2 separate regions of the Homo sapiens genome follow, and region 2 is linked to region 1. Evidence: fine-mapped expression QTL. Tissue or cell type: spinal cord. Region 1 holds a variant in brackets; the other region holds the start of a gene. All regions are shown on one strand. Distances are between the middles of the regions. Region 1 overlaps NLRP4 (NLR family pyrin domain containing 4). Region 2 holds the start of NLRP4 (NLR family pyrin domain containing 4).

What was found. PIP is the estimated chance that this variant, and not a neighbour inherited with it, causes the effect.
Region 2: it holds the start of NLRP4, and the variant in region 1 is fine-mapped to the expression of NLRP4 in spinal cord (GTEx, PIP 0.95).

The regions. Positions count from the first base shown.
Region 1 is chr19:55,854,934-55,860,314 of GRCh38, forward strand. NLRP4 (NLR family pyrin domain containing 4) reads left to right here. Exons shown (of 10, transcript NM_134444.5): 3 at 2,741-4,316. Among named protein-coding and RNA genes, the nearest start is that of NLRP4, 21 kb to the left of the region's middle. The variant G/T (reference allele first, on the strand shown) is at 2,513.
Region 2 is chr19:55,833,479-55,838,859 of GRCh38, forward strand. NLRP4 (NLR family pyrin domain containing 4) reads left to right here and starts at 3,062. Exons shown (of 10, transcript NM_134444.5): 1 at 3,062-3,456. It also overlaps a transcript of NLRP11 not described here.

The DNA of each region.
Region 1 (5,381 bases):
GGCTGGTGTTGAACTGCTGACCTCCGGTGATCCGCCCGCCTTGGCTTCCCAAAGGGCTAGGATTACAGGTGTGAACCACCACACCTGGCCACCCAGTCCAAATTTTTAAACAAATTCCCCCATGTTTCCTGGAGTGTTTTGGTGTCACACGCTGAGGTCTCAGCTACCCTGGAAGCTGAGGCAGGAGGATCACTTCAGCCCAGGAGGATGAGGCTGCAGTGAGCTGTGTTTGTGCCACTGCACTCCAGCCTGGGTAACAGAGTGAGACCCTGTCTCAAAAAAGTAATTTATATAAAGAAGAACATTCTTTGCACATGGAACCATTTTAGAATATTGCTAAAATAAAATGTAAGCAGGTCTAAAGTTAGATCTTCCACTGGGTACTTACACTTCTCTCTTTTCACAGTTGGTTTGAGGTTGTACCCACTTAATTCCCCTTATGAGCAACCAAACATGTCACCGAAATCTCCAGAACAGCTGAGAAGACCAGGAAAGCAGGAAGCCATTGGGGAATGGGCAAACAACTTAGCTTAAGATGCTAATAGGATCTTCACCAATGTCAGATGGCATTTTCACCAGTTAGGGACTTCAGGGGACTGAAAGATTGGGGGAATCCCTTGTTCTCCCCAAAAACTTAAGGTAGCATTACCTACTGTCAGCAGTCTGTGGGCACTGGATTATATCTTTCACCTGCATCCAATCAAATCCAGTAACTATTATGCGGGGCATAGGGAAAATTTCCCATCTACAACTGCCCCCTACATCTCCAGTCCATCAGCAGCTACTCACTTGCAGAATATAAACATCGTACTAGTTATTTAAGGAACAGATAACTGTAAAGGAGTTTTCGGCCTGGCTGAAGGATCAGCCTCTAGGCTGGTGCTCCAGAGATGACTGTAAGAACTATAGTATCAGGGAGCTGCTGCCTCTCCTGCAAAGAGGAAAGTGGGAGATGGGAAGCTCACTGTTAGAACTGTGGCTTTAGAAATACACCACGACAGCTATGATTCAGAAATCGGGAAGCTCACCAGTGTAGCAGCTGCTTAAAATCAATGACCACAGCAACTGGTTTTAGTTTTCGAGACAGTCTCGCTCTATTGCCAGGGCTAGATTACAGTGGTGCAATCTCTGCTCACTGCAACCTCCACCTCCCAGGTTCAAGCGATTCTTCTGCCCTGGCCTCCCGAGTAGCTGGGATTATAGGCCTGTACCACCACGCCCAGCTAATTTTTGTATTTTTAGTAGAGATGGGGTTTCACCATGTTGACCAGGCTGGTCTCGATCTCCTAGCCTGAAGTGATCTGCCTGCCTCAGCCTCCCAAAGTGCTGGGATTATAGGCGTGAGCCACTGCGCCCAGCCAACTACAGCAACTGGAGACAAGCCTTCTGTTACAGAAGAGTCCAGCGTCTGTGTGTTCATGGAAGCTGGCAGCAAAACAGGCAGAAGATAGACTCCACTCCCCTTCCCCTTCCAGTGTCATGAGAGTGAGGGCCAATCGCAGAACTTAATCTGTACCTTGATCTTAGCTACGAGGGGTTGTGGGATGCGTAGGGCTTGGTCATCACTGTTGCTGGATCTTTTTTTTTTTTTTTTTTTTTTGAGACGGAGCCTCCTTCTGTTGCCCACGTTAGAGTACAGCAGTGCCATCTCAGCTCACTGCAACCTCTGCCTCCCGGGTTCAAGCGATTCTCCTGCCTCAGCCTCCCAAGTAGCTGGGACTACAGGCACACACCACCACGCCCGGCTAATTTTTGTATTTTTAGTAGAGACAGGGTTTCACCATGTTGGCCAGGATGGTCTTGATCTCTTGACTTCATGATCTGCCCACCTTGGCCTCCCAAAGTTCTGGGATTACAGGCATGAACCACTGCCCCGGCCTGTTGTTGGATTTTTTGATTGGCTTTTCTTTTGAGAATTCTGCCATTGAAAGAAAGCTCACTGGCATAAAGTTGGAATGGATGCGAGGTGCCATTCTATCCTCTCTACTGCATCTCCTCTCTCTTCTGGAGGCAACTGCCTAGGTCAGGTCCTTTTTAGGTGGACTTTCAGATCTAGTCCCTATATGTGAAACCTATATGTGTATATAAATCCCTTGTTTATGCAAATTGAGTACATGCTATAGACACCGTCCTGTTGCTTATCCATATGAAGAGATTATTCCATACTTTTAATATTTGTATAATAGCTTGTGTCTCATAAATTATTTAACTGGTCTTGATAGTCATATAGCTATTTTCCATTTATTTTGCTATCATCGTAGCAATGAATACCTGTGTATGTGTCTATTGAAAGCAGAAGTTGTCAAACTTTACATAGTAGCAATGAATGTATATGTGTGTGTGTGTGTCTATTGAAAGCAGAAGTTGTCAAACTTTACGTAGTAGCAATGAATGTGTGTGTGTGTGTGTGTGTGTGTGTGTGTGTCTATTGAAAGCAGAAGTTGTCAACCTTTTTGTGTAGAGGACCATATGGTTTCCATTTTAGGCTTTGTGAGTCATACGGTCTCTCATA[G/T]CTGTTCAGCTCTGCTATTCAATCAGGAAGGCTCCTGTAGACAATATACCCGTGAATGGTGTAGTGAGTTCTAATGAAACTTTATTTACAAGAGGAGACTGACCAGGTTTGGCCTGGGGGCCACAGTGTGTAGACCCCTGGAAAGATACATCCTGAGAAGAAAAAAAGAATATATGCAGGAATGCTTAACTTTGTGGGTTTTCTCTCCTCTTGCCCTCACTGACTCAGGATACACAAAGACCTATCAAGCTCACGCAAAGCAGAAATTCAGCCGCTTATGGTCCAGCAAGTCTGTCACTGAGATTCACCTATACTTTGAGGAGGAAGTCAAGCAAGAAGAATGTGACCATTTGGACCGCCTTTTTGCTCCCAAGGAAGCTGGGAAACAGCCACGTACAGTGATCATTCAAGGACCACAAGGAATTGGAAAAACGACACTCCTGATGAAGCTGATGATGGCCTGGTCGGACAACAAGATCTTTCGGGATAGGTTCCTGTACACGTTCTATTTCTGCTGCAGAGAACTGAGGGAGTTGCCGCCAACGAGTTTGGCTGACTTGATTTCCAGAGAGTGGCCTGACCCCGCTGCTCCTATAACAGAGATCGTGTCTCAACCGGAGAGACTCTTGTTCGTCATCGACAGCTTCGAAGAGCTGCAGGGCGGCTTGAACGAACCCGATTCGGATCTGTGTGGTGACTTGATGGAGAAACGGCCGGTGCAGGTGCTTCTGAGCAGTTTGCTGAGGAAGAAGATGCTCCCGGAGGCCTCCCTGCTCATCGCTATCAAACCCGTGTGCCCGAAGGAGCTCCGGGATCAGGTGACGATCTCAGAAATCTACCAGCCCCGGGGATTCAACGAGAGTGATAGGTTAGTGTATTTCTGCTGTTTCTTCAAAGACCCGAAAAGAGCCATGGAAGCCTTCAATCTTGTAAGAGAAAGTGAACAGCTGTTTTCCATATGCCAAATCCCGCTCCTCTGCTGGATCCTGTGTACCAGTCTGAAGCAAGAGATGCAGAAAGGAAAAGACCTGGCCCTGACCTGCCAGAGCACTACCTCTGTGTACTCCTCTTTCGTCTTTAACCTGTTCACACCTGAGGGTGCCGAGGGCCCGACTCCGCAAACCCAGCACCAGCTGAAGGCCCTGTGCTCCCTGGCTGCAGAGGGTATGTGGACAGACACATTTGAGTTTTGTGAAGACGACCTCCGGAGAAATGGGGTTGTTGACGCTGACATCCCTGCGCTGCTGGGCACCAAGATACTTCTGAAGTACGGGGAGCGTGAGAGCTCCTACGTGTTCCTCCACGTGTGTATCCAGGAGTTCTGTGCCGCCTTGTTCTATTTGCTCAAGAGCCACCTTGATCATCCTCACCCAGCTGTGAGATGTGTACAGGAATTGCTAGTTGCCAATTTTGAAAAAGCAAGGAGAGCACATTGGATTTTTTTGGGGTGTTTTCTAACTGGCCTTTTAAATAAAAAGGAACAAGAAAAACTGGATGCGTTTTTTGGCTTCCAACTGTCCCAAGAGATAAAGCAGCAAATTCACCAGTGCCTGAAGAGCTTAGGGGAGCGTGGCAATCCTCAGGGACAGGTGGATTCCTTGGCGATATTTTACTGTCTCTTTGAAATGCAGGATCCTGCCTTTGTGAAGCAGGCAGTGAACCTCCTCCAAGAAGCTAACTTTCATATTATTGACAACGTGGACTTGGTGGTTTCTGCCTACTGCTTAAAATACTGCTCCAGCTTGAGGAAACTCTGTTTTTCCGTTCAAAATGTCTTTAAGAAAGAGGATGAACACAGCTCTACGTGAGTCCATCCTATGACTTTTTCTCTCTTCTCAGAATCTGTCTGTATTCCCAAGTGGGTTTTGCTGAGGGAGTGTTTAATATAGGATCATGGTTAGAAACTCATTTTTTCTGCCACAAAACCTCAGCTCACATCCTGGCCCAACATTTTAGGAGCTCTTAGACTTTGTCTGTGAGCCTTGCCCTTTTGTGGCTGCAGTGGCCCCATTACAGAAGGGGGAATAATAATTGTATTGTGAGGAGTGAATATGAGGACCTGTGTGAAGAGTGTTTCCTACTTTCTCAAGTATTAGCTGATCAGTACTATAATCGATATTTTTCCATAGCACCACACTCCCTGTGTCTTGACCTCTCAGCTGCAAGTTACCTTTGAAAACTTAGTCTAAAAAATCATACAGCCCGGGTGTGGTGGCTCATGCCTGTAACCCTACCACTGTGGGAGGCTGAGGCAGGTGGATCACTTAAGGTCAGGAGTTCGAGACTAGCCTGACCAACATGGTGACACCTCGTCTCCACTAAAAATACAAAAATTAGCCGGGTGTGTAGCGCACACCTGTAATCCCAGCTACTTGGGAGGCTGAGGCCGGAGAATCACTTGAGCCCGGGAGGCAGAGGTTGCAGTGAGCTGAGATCGCACCACTGCCCTCCAGGCTGGGTGACAGTGAGACTCTCATCTCCAAAAAAAAAAAAAAAAAAAAAAAAAACAAAACACAAATCATACAAATTTTCTTCTTGTTCTTTTTTTTTTTTTTTCTGAAATGGAGTTTTGCTTTGTCACCCAGGCTGGAGTGCAGTGGCGAGATCTTGGCTCACTGCAAGCTCCGCCTCCCAGGTTCACGCCATTCTCCTGCCTCGGCCTCCCGAATAGCTGGGACTAGAGGGGCCCGCCACCACACCCAGCTAATTTTTTGTGTTTTTAGTAGAGACAGGGTTTCACCGTGTTGGCCAGGATGGTCTCGATCTCCTGACCTCGTGATCTGCCCACCTCGGCCTCTCAAAGTGCTGGGATTACAGGCGTGAGCCACCGTGCCCGGCCAAATCATATACATTTTAACTTACAGCTCAT
Region 2 (5,381 bases), 21 kb before region 1:
TGGTTGGCCGGGGGCGGTGGCTCATGCCTGTAATCCCAGCACTTTGGGAGGCTGAAGCGGGCAGATCAGAAGGTCAGAAGATCGAGACCATCCTGGCTAACACGGTGAAACCCCCGTCTCTACCAAAAATATAAAAAAATTTAGCCAGGTGTGGTGGCGGGCGCCTGTAGTCCCAGCTACTCGGGAGGCTGAGGCAGGAGAATTACTTGAGCCCGGGAGGAGGAGCTTGCAGTGAGCCGAGATCAGGCCACCGCACTCCAGCCTGGGCGACAGAGCGACTCCGTCTCAAAAAAAAAAAAAAAAAAAAAAAAAAGACTTATTGGCACACGGATGAACAAATAATAGTGAAAAAAACATAGAACCCAGAAACCAATGTAGGCAAATACGAAAAGCTGGTTTATAACAGATTTCTGGGCAGTGGCGTAGGTGAACTATTCATTAAATGGAGCTGGTGCCATTTGTATTTAAATGAAAAAAAAAAAATGGATCCCTTCTCCCTACCTTAGAGAAAAATAATTACAAGTGACTTAATACTTCTGTGTGAAATTCAAAACTCTATCATATTTTAAAAGGCAATATTAGATATCTTCATGAGTTGGAGTAGGGAATGATTTTTGTCAACAAGACCTCACATTTATAAAACATAAAGTACATTTTGATCAATTTGATTTCATTTAAAATAAAAACTCTTCAGTGAATGGTTCTTATATAACAAAAGCTACAAACCACAAACTAGGAGGAGATATATGAAAATACGTGCATCACACATAACTGACCAAACCACTTTTTCAGAAAAGGTAAAGCACTTCTTCATGCAAATAAAAACAGAACACAACCAATAGAAATACAAGGAAAACAATGAAAAGGTATTTCACAAAAGAGGCAACAAATGGCTCACAAACATGAGAACAATGTTCAAGTATATTAATAATCAGATAAAAGCAAATGAAAACAACAAAATACTTTTTCCAACTAATATTTGGTGACTACTTTAAAATGTCAACAACATCAGGAGTAGGCAGTAAGGTGCAGCTATGGGGATATTCAACTGTGCATGATGCTAATGTAATTAGTGAAACCACTTCTGAAGAGGCAACTGAAGTCACCTGTGCCTCAGGGACTCAGTCATTCCACTCAGGTAATCCAAAAGTCCTGTGGGCTCACTGATGTGTGCAAGAAGGTTCAAAACAGCATTGTTCATATTGGCAAAAACTGAGAAACCACCCAACCACCTATCACTGACAGAATGGATCATTAAATGGTGACCTAGTCATACATTTAAATACCGTGAGGCAAGACCTAGAAATGAACCGCAGCTATAACAAACTCGCATTGATTAATCTCAAAAACATAATAAGTGAAAAGAATCAAGTCACAGAATGATACACTATAATTCGAAAATGAGGAAAACAAAACATATCTCTTAGGGGAACATGTATCACCAGGAAAAATAAAAAGAAAATCGAAGGGAATGAAGTTCACTTCACAACTGGAAATTTATTTTGGTGGGAACCCCTGAGGATGCAACGGGCATGCTCTTATGGGTACATGAGTCTGCAAAGGTCCCCATCATGTCTGCTTCCCAATCTAGGTTCTGGACCACAGAGACTTGTGTTATGGTTACAGTAATTCCTTAAAGTTCTCATTATGTTTCTCTGCACTCCTTGATGTGTATATTTCAAAACCAGGATCATCACCATCGTAACACTGAACTCAGGATTCTTATAAGGAGGAACTAAAATGGTGATTGTAAAAGGATAGCTCCTAGGACACTGAGGTTTGGCGTGAACCCAGAAGATGACTGTAACGATTGTAGGGAAGCTGGAATAGCAGGAAAACCATGCCCAATGATGAAATCTCGACCTTGCGTCTAAAAAACTTAGCGCCTGTTCTGCCTACGCAGAAAGACAGTAGCCGATATCCATTAAGTTCTTCTTGCAGGCCAGGCACAGTGGCTCATGCCTGTAATCCCAGCACTTTGGGAGGCCGAGGCGGGCAGATCACTTGAGGTCAAGGGTTCGAGACCAGCCTGGCCAACATGGTGAAACCCTGTCTCTACTGAAAATACAAAAATTAGCCGAGGCCAGGCACAGTGGCTCATGCCTGTAATCCCGGCACTTTGGGAGGCCGAGGCGGGCAGATCACTTGAGGTCAAGGGTTCGAGACCAGCCTGGCCAACATGGTGAAACCCTGTCTCTACTGAAAATACAAAAATTAGCCGAGGCCAGGCACAGTGGCTCATGCCTGTAATTCCGGCACTTTGGGAGGCCGAGGCGGTCAGAACACTTGAGGTCAAGGGTTCGAGACCAGCCTGGCCAACATGGTGAAACCCTGTCTCTACTGAAAATACAAAAATTAGCCGAGGCCAGGCACAGTGGCTCATGCCTGTAATCCCAGCACTTCGGGAGGCCGAGGCGGGCAGATCACTTGAGGTCAAGGGTTCGAGACCAGCCTGGCCAACATGGCGAAAGCCCGTCTCTACTGAAAATACAAAAATTAGCCGGGCATGGTGGTGTGCATCTGTAATCCCAGCTACTCAGCAGGCTGAGGCAGGAGAATCTCTTGAACCCGGGAGGTGGAGGTTACAGTGGGCCGAGATGACGCCACTGCACTCCAGCCTGGGTGACCGAGTGAGACCGTATCTAATAATAATTAATAATTTCTTCTTGCACGACAGGTTTAGTTACGGCAGAAAGATGTTGTGCCACACGAACATTCTTCAAGGAGTTTAGCATGTAGGAAGGAATTAGACATTTAAATTATAAACAGAGTCACCCCAACTCTCCAAATGAACCATTTTGGAGAGACTGGAGGAGCATCCCTGCAGCCGTGAGCCCTGGGAATTCTCAATAGGAACCTCCAGCTTGAAATATCCCCCGCTCTATACGACACCAGGAGCAAAGGTCTAGAACAGCCCCTCAAGGGGCGGTGGGCGTTTCGCTTCACATATTTTCTGGATCTGTTCATCAAAAGCCCTCTGAGCCAATGGCAAGGGAGCAATTCGTTGGCCAATCAAATGGCACCACGGATCTTTTCTTCCCGCTTCCAGCCGCCAATCATTAAGGACCAGGAAGGCGTGGAGCGGTGAGTCAGCGCTTCGTGCTGGGCTGTTCGTCTCTTCTATGTGCTGATTTCCTGGGTTACTTTGGGTCTTCCTTTTCTTTCTCCCTTTTACCCTGTCTCCTTTCTTGAGGCTGATCGATCACAGCCAGGCCTCTCCATTCTATTTACCCAGCGTTTTCCTTCTCTCCAGTTAGTGGGGTAGATGAACGCCCTGTGTTTATAAGGTGCCTCCCAGGAGCCTGAGACCTGTGAGAAGAATGGGGGGTGGAGGTGGGGGAGACTCGTCACGAAGGGAGACCTTGGAGCTTCGAGGGTGGGAATGTTCTTATTAGATTCTTCATCTCTGTTGACACAAACATGTAGGAGAAGCTGGAGAACATAGACAGGGATGAGGTAAGGGGGGGGACTTCCCATGAAAGGTGGGACCCAAGCCCTCTCTGCTCTTGTGAGCTTGCTCTCTGACCTAGGGCAGAAACGTCTTTGATACTGTAATTCCAGAATGTGATTTAAAAAGAAAATCACACTTCTAGTTGACTCATACTAATTATGTATATTAGCTGCAGAGAGATGTGTTGGTACATGTATACGTATCATTAAATCAGGGTAATGAGCATATCCATCTCCTCATACCTGTATCATTTCTTTGTGTTAGGAACATTCAGAATCCTCTCCTTAGGTGGGAGGAGGGAGAGGGTCAGGAAAAGATAGCTATGGGGTCCTATTCTTAATACCTGGGAGATGAAAAACTGTACACCAAACCCCTGTGACACGAGTTTACCTGTATAACCAGTGTATATGTACCCCTGAACCTAACATAAAAGTTAGAAAAACCCTCGAAAATAATAAGATATTAAGTATATTCAACCTATAGTGCTACTGAACACCAGCACCTATTCCTACCTACAGGTGTAACTTGGTATCCATTAGCCAACCTCTTTTCATCCCCCTTCTCCAATTATGCCATTTGTTTAGACTATGAAACGTATATAGAAAGAATATTTATCTTTCTATATCAATAAAAGTTGGTTTTTACTGTTAAGGGTTGAATTGTGTCCCAACCCTAAAAACACACACACACACACAAAGTCCTAACCCCTTTATAGGGTGACAAAATAAGGTTGTTGCAGATGTAATTAGTTAAGGCGAGGTCATACTGGAGTGAGTGGCCCCCCTAACTTAATGACGGGTGTCCTTATGAAAACGGCCACATGCGGCTGGGTGTGGTGGCTCATGCCTGTAACACCAGCACTTTGGGAGGTTGAGGTGGGTGGATCATCTGAGCTCAGGAGTTTAAGACAAGCCTGGAAAACATGGCAAAACCCTGTCTCTACTAAAAATACAAAAATCAGCTGGGTATGGTGGCAGGTGCCTGTAATCCCAGCTACTCAGGAGGCTGAGGCAGGAGAATTGCCTGAACCCAGGAGGTGGAGATTGCAGTGTGCCGAGATTGCACCATTGCACTCCAGCCTGGGTGACAGAATGAGACTCGGTCTCAAGCTGGATGCAGTGGCTCACACCTATAATCCCAGCACTTTGGGAGGCCGAGGCGGGTGGATCACCCGAGGTTGGGGGTTCGAGACCAGCCTGACCAACATGGTGAAATACAAAAAATTAGCCAACTGTGGTGGCGCATGCCTGTAATCCCAGCTACTCAGGAGGCTGAGGCAGGAGGATTGCTTGAACCTGGGAGGCAGAGGTTGCAGTGAGCCAAGATTGCGCCATTGCATTCCAGCCTGGGCAACAAGAGTGAAACTCCATCTTAGAAAAAATGGCCACATGAAGGTAGAGACAAGCAGAATGGCATGTGACAAAGTCAGAGTGAAATTACATAGCTGCAAACCAAAGAGTGACACAGGTTGCCAGCAAACCACAGAAGCCAGTAAGAGGCAAGGAAGGGCTCCCCTGGGTTTCAGAGAGAGCAGCACCCTGCCAACACTTTGATTTTGGACATCTAGGCTCCAGAACCATGAGACAGTAGGTTTCTGTTTTAAGTTACCTAGTTTGTGGTACGTTGTCATGCCAGCCCAAGGAAGCTAGTACGCTATTAAAAGAAAAAAATGATGTGATTTTACACTTAGAGAACAGCTTCAAGAATATATCCTTAGGATCACCAAATGTTAAAAGTTTACCTTATATGGTGTCCCTCTACTCTTATATAAGTATTTTTCCTGATCTGTTCAAGATTTGTACACATTGTACAAATTTACATCTAATAATTTACCCTAAATGCTTCAGGGTTTATCTTCTAAAAATAAAAATAAAAGTAAGCTCTTTTGATAACCACACTATATAAAAAACAGGAAATTAATAGAATGATA